Linked DNA regions of Homo sapiens: region 1 is linked to region 2. Evidence: fine-mapped expression QTL. A gene starts in region 2. The other region holds a variant in brackets. All regions are shown on one strand. Distances are from middle to middle. Region 1 has its middle 23 kb from the start of SMG1. Region 2 holds the start of SMG1 (SMG1 nonsense mediated mRNA decay associated PI3K related kinase).

What was found. PIP is the estimated chance that this variant, and not a neighbour inherited with it, causes the effect.
Region 1: its variant is the best candidate, but not a certain one, in a credible set for the expression of SMG1 in whole blood (INTERVAL, PIP 0.78).

What each region holds. Positions count from the first base shown.
Region 1 is chr16:18,948,197-18,951,098 of GRCh38, reverse strand. No RefSeq gene overlaps it. Among named protein-coding and RNA genes, the nearest start is that of SMG1, 23 kb to the right of the region's middle. The variant C/A (reference allele first, on the strand shown) is at 1,367.
Region 2 is chr16:18,925,130-18,928,009 of GRCh38, reverse strand. It overlaps SMG1 (SMG1 nonsense mediated mRNA decay associated PI3K related kinase), which reads left to right and starts at 1,602. Exons shown (of 63, transcript NM_015092.5): 1 at 1,602-2,060. The coding sequence starts at 1,969. It overlaps SMG1-DT (SMG1 divergent transcript), which reads right to left and starts at 1,823. Exons shown (of 2, transcript XR_001752094.2): 1 at 1,736-1,823. RefSeq lists enhancers at 509-1,122, 1,123-1,735 and silencers at 1,421-1,760, 1,791-2,380.

The sequences.
Region 1 (2,902 bases), 23 kb before region 2:
CACAGGCTGGCTACAGTTGGTAGACACTTCTCCCCAGGTGGCAAGAGAAGGATGGCCAATGCAGCGTCTGGACACTGACAATTTATACTTTCTTAAGTGAAGATCAGTGGCCTCCCCTTGGTCTTCCCTTTGGTAACACAGCTGCTGTCTATGAGGTCCCTCACCTCTTCATCAGCCCACAGGAAGTGGTTCTTTTTTTTCATCTATATAATTGTGTTTCTTTTTTAAGTTTTTCTTTTTCTTTCTCTTTTTCTTTTTTTGAGACAAGGTCTCTTTTTTTATTTTTTTATTTGTATTTTATTTACTTATTTATTTTTGAGACAGAGTCTCGCTCTGTCGCCAGGCTGGAATGCAGTGGTGCAATCTCAGCTCAATGTAATCTCTGCCTCCTGGGTCCAGGCGATTCTGCTGCATCAGCTTCCCGAGTAGCTAGGACTACAAGGCACGCACCACCACACTCAGCTAATTTTTTGTATTTTTTTAGTAGAGAGAAGGTTTCACCATGTTGGCCAGGATGGTCTCGATCTCTTGACCTTGTAATCCACCTGCCTCGGCCTCCCAAAGTGCTGAGATTACAAGCGTGAGCCACTGCACCCAGCCACAAGACAGGGTCTCATTCTGTTACCCAGGCTGGAGTGCAGTGGTGTGATCATGGCTCATTGCAGCCTCAACCCCCTGGGCTCAAGTGATCCTCCTGTCTCAGCCTCTCCAGTAGCTGGGACTATAGGCACACACCATCCCACCTGGCTAGTGTTTGTTTTTTTGTTTGTTTGTTTGTTTGGTTTTTTTTTTTGGAGATGGGTTATTGCTATGTTGCCCAGGTTGGTCTTGAACTCCTGGCCCCAAGTGACCCTCCTGCCTCAGTCTCCCAAAGTGTTGGGATTACAGGTATGAGCCACTGCACCCAGCCTATAACTATTTTTCTATTTATTTGAAGCACAGTTAAAAAAAAAAGGTATACTTTGGAAATTCAGTGACACAAGTTACACTGCCATAACTGAGAGATATCATACAGTTAAAAAAATTAAAAAGTCTCTCTGAACCTATTCTGGTTCAGGAGTCTGCTCAATAAAAATAATAATAATAGGCTAGGCACTGTGTGCTCATGCCTGTAATCCCAACACTTTGGGAGGCTGAGGTGGAAGGATTGCTTGAGGCCTATGTGTTCAAGACCAGCCTGAGCAACATAGTGAGGCCCCATCTCTACAAAAACATTTTTTAAATTAGCAGGGCAAAACTGGGTGTGGTGGTTCATGCCTGTAATCCCAGTACTTTGGGAAACCAAGGTGGGCAAATCACCTGAGTTCAGGAATTTGAGACCAGCCTTGCCAACAAGGTGAAATCCTGTCTCTACTAAAAATACACA[C/A]AAAAAAATTATCCGGGCATGGTGATGTACACCTGTGGTCCCAGCTACTCGGGAGGTGGAGGCAGGAGAATCGCTTGAATCTGGGAGGCAGAGGTTGCGTGAGCCGAGATCACGCCACTGCACTCCAGCCTAGGTGACAGAGAAAGACCCTGTCACAAAAAAAAAAAAAAAAAGGAAGAAAGAAAGAAGGAATGAGAAAAACAAAAGAGCAGGGTGAGGTTGTGTGCAACTGTAGTCCCAGATACTCAGCAGGCTGAGGTGGGAGGAGGATCCCTTGAGCCTAGGAGTTCCAGGTTGCAGTGAACTATAATACTCTCAACCTGGGCAACAGAGTGAGAACCTGTCCTCCCTGCCAAAATAATAATAATAATAATAATAATTGTTCTCCCATTTTGAACACTGCATTACATAATTTTACCTGCCCAAGGAAGTATTTCTGAAAGTGTGATCACCAGAACTGGCAGATTCAGCCACACTTCTTTTTTTTTGGGACGGAGTTGCGATCTTGTTGCCCAGGCTGGAGTGCAATGGCATGATCTCGGCTCACCACAACCTCCCCCTCCCGGGTTCAAGCGATTCTCCTGCCTCAGCCTCCTGAGTAGCTGGGATTACAGGCATGCACCACCACGTCTGGCTAATTTTGTAGTTTTAGTAGAGACGGGGTTTCTCCATGTTGCTCAGGCTGGTCGCGAACTCCCGACCTCAGGGGAGGTGATCCACCTGCCTCGGCCTCCCAAAGTGGTAGGATTACAGGCGTGAGCCACCGCGCCCAGCCACACTTTGTTAAAAATACAAATTCTTGGGTGGGTGAGACCACCCTTGCCAACAAGGTAAAATCCTGTCTCTACTAAAAAAAAAAAAAAAAAATTGGCTCATGCCTGTAATCCCAGCAGTTTGGGAGGCAGGAGGATCGCTTGAAGCCAAGAGTTGGAGACCAGCCCGGGCAACACAGCAAAACCTGGTTTCTAAAAAATAAAAATATAAAAATAAAAACTTAGCATGGTGGCATGTGCCCGTGGTCTCAGCTACTTTGGGAGGCTGAGGCAGGAGGATCACTGGAACCCAGGAGTTCAAGGCTACAGTGAGCTATAATGGCACCACTGCATTATAGCCTAAGCCAGATTCTCAAGCCCTACCCAGACCTGATGAGTCGGAAACTCAGGAGGGTGGATCCCAGCGATCTGTGTGGTTTTTTTGTTTGTTTGTTTTGCTTTGTGGGTTTTTGGGTTTTTTTGTAACAAACTCTCCAGGTAACTTTGTGTACACAAAAGTTTGAGAGTGACTGCTCTAGTCTAAGGCAGTGTATCTCAAACTTTACCTCACACTAGGATTTCTTTGGCAGCTTTGAGAAATTCTAATGCTCAGGCTTCAATCACACTTAATTAAATCAGAATCTGGTGATAGGACTCAGGCATCAGTAGTTTTTACACATCCCGCAGGTGATTCAAGTGGGCAGGAGAGTTTGAGAACCAGTGTGGTCTAGTACGCGCAGCGTCACCATCCCCTGGGTGCCCGGTAGAAATGCAGAACCTCAGG
Region 2 (2,880 bases):
TTGGTAACAATATTTATTTGCACAAGCGATATATAAAGACGTTTTCTTTGCAACATAAAATGATAGGTTATGACTCCTTATGCAGATACGGTTTAGACACTCGTTTAAGGAGCATCCTGGCCCAACTTTTAAAAAACGTGTGTGCATTCACGTTATGCATCAGATGCTTTAGGGAACTTTTTTCCCTGGGGCATGGGACACGTCATGGGGTAGACGGTCGGGTACGTCTCCTCTACCCAGCTGCTGCTTTGTTTTTTTTTTCTTTTTGAGACAGAGTCTTGCTCTGTCGCCCACGCTGGAGTGCAGTGGAGCCATCTCTGCTCACTGTGAGCTCCGCTTCCCGGGTTCACGCCATTCTCCTGCCTCAGCCTCAGGAGTAGCTGGGACTACAGGCACCCGCCACCACGCCCGGCTAATTTTTTGTATTTTTAGTAGAGACGGGGTTTCACCGTGTTAGCCAGGATGGTCTCGATCTCCTGACCTCGTGATCCGCCCGCCTCGGCCTCCCAAAGTGCTGGGATTACAGACGTGATCCACCACGCCCGGCCTTCTCTCTTTCTTTTCTTTTTTCCTTTCCTTTCCTTTCCTTTCCTTCCTTCCTCCCTTCCTTCCTTCCTTTTTCTTCCCTCCCTCCTTTCTCTCTCTCTTTTATTTTTTTGAGACAGAGTTTCACTCTTGTTGTCCAGGCTGGACTGCAATGGTCTGATCTCGGCTCACTGCAACCTCGGCCTGCTGGGTTCAAGCGATTCCCCTGCCTCAGCCTCCCAAGTAGCTGGGATTACAGGCGCCCTCCACCATGCCCGGCTAATTTTTGTATTTTTAGTAGAGGCGGGGTTTCTCCATGTTGGCTAGGCTGGTCGGGAACTCCTCACCTCAGACGATCCGCCCACCTCGGCCTCCGAAAGTGCTGGGATTACAGGCGTGATCCACCGCGCCTAGCCCCCAGCTTCTTTCACCAGCAGAAGGCGGGCAAGCCTCAGGGTGAAAGGACTTCAAAGCACATTTCACATTGCAGAGGACAGGGTTTGGTGATCGTGGGTACTCCCTTCCCTTCCATCGTTTAGTTTTTTTCATTGTGAAGAAATGGTAAAAGGTGCCAGGACTCGATGGGCACATTTCAGGTGGAGGTTGGGAAGGTGGATATCCACCTCTCGATCTTACTATTTTCACTTTCCACCCCACCCCGTAGAAAGTGGGAAAACTGGCGCACGTGAATCCAAGGGCACGCCTGTGTGCGCGCGCACCGCAGGGCACCAGCCCCCACCCACACCGCAGGTCCTTGATTGGACGCCTGTTTACACCTGACTGCCCGGCCCTCCGGTGCTTTCCGGGAAGCGTTTGGGAGAAAAGTGTGTGGCCGCAGTAGTGGAGATCCCCTGTCTTAGGATTCGTCACCGCTACGCCCAGACCTCTTCGCCGCCCAAGGGCCTGGGGACGTGGGGGGCGGGGCGGCCTGCTATCGACCCCGCCTCTCTCGGCTCCGCCCCGCCGACAGGACCCGCCTCTCTCCCCAGGCCCGGCGGGCGCCAACCCCGCCCCTCGCTCCCAGCATGCCGTGCGACAGCGGCGGCGCGGCGGGCGGAGCCGGGAGGCGGGGAAGCAGTGGCCGTGTGAGCGTGAGGAGCTGCCGCCACCGCCTGCTCCTCGTCGTCCTCGTCCTCCGGGGCCCCGGCGACGTGGGCCGCGCACGGCCCTGGAAAAGACGTCGCCTCCCCTTCATCCGCCTCTCTCTCACCGCGCCGCTCCCGCCTCCTCGTCCTGCGCTGCGGGCTCAGGCGGAACCCGGAACGGCCGTCCTCTTCCCCCGCCCTCCGCCGCCTCCTCCTTCTCCTCCTCCTCCTCCTCCTCCTCCTTCTCGGCTTCCTCCTCAGCCCCGGGCCGGAGCGGGGTGTCGGCGGCGGCCGGTTCGGGCGGCGACTCGCGCTTCTTTGGGCGGCGGCGCTTGGCCATGTCGTGTCGGGGAAGGTAATGAGCCGCAGAGCCCCGGGGTCTCGGCTGAGCAGCGGCGGCGGCGGCGGCGGCACCAAGTATCCGCGGAGCTGGAATGACTGGCAACCCAGGTGGGTGACCGGCCCGGGACCCCGCCCCGACCTCCCGGGCTCCGCCTCGGGCGGGCCGAGGCCTAGGGCCGCGGGGCTGGGAGGCGCGGCCTAGGCCCTCCACCCCTCGGAGCCGGGCGCGGCTTCCTGGGTCTCCTCCGCCCCGGCTGGGGGAGGAAGGCCGCGGGGAGGCGAGGCCTAAGTGCCTCCCCTCCCTGCTTGTTCAGCCCGGGGCTGGAGCCGAGACCCGGGGCTCCCGGCGGTGGCACTGGCCTGGGGTCGGGACCAGGAGGTGAGAAAGAGGCGGGGGTGGGGGTGGGGGGCATTCCAGTTACAGCCTCCCCCTGACCCCGAGTTGGGAGATGCTGAGAGTCCAGGACCCTCCCTGTTACTCATTCACTTTCTCGGTTCCCCACTCTTTCAGCCGCCACGTGAGAGCTCTTCTAACCTCTGTTCCTTTCTGTGACCCCCACGTGTTAATATTGAAAAAAACAAAACAAAACTCCAGCTAAGGCATTGCTCTGACTCTAGGCAGAACATTCATTAGTGGAGCATGAGATGAGATTGTGTGACTGTTGATGGGATCGACCCACGCTGGTCTTGGGCGATGGAAGTTTTCCCTAAGTGCAAGGCCGGTTACTCTGGTGAATCGTAATTCATACCTGGACACTTGAGTGAACTCTTTGGGCACCCACTTAGAAGTCTAGAGAATTTCCTCATTTATGGAGGATTTGATCTCAGACCGTTTTGGGGCTTAGTGAGATTTGAATATATTAGGAACATTAACTTTTTAAATAAATGTAGTTTCCTGTCTTTTTGATCAATGGGAGGGCAGCTGTGC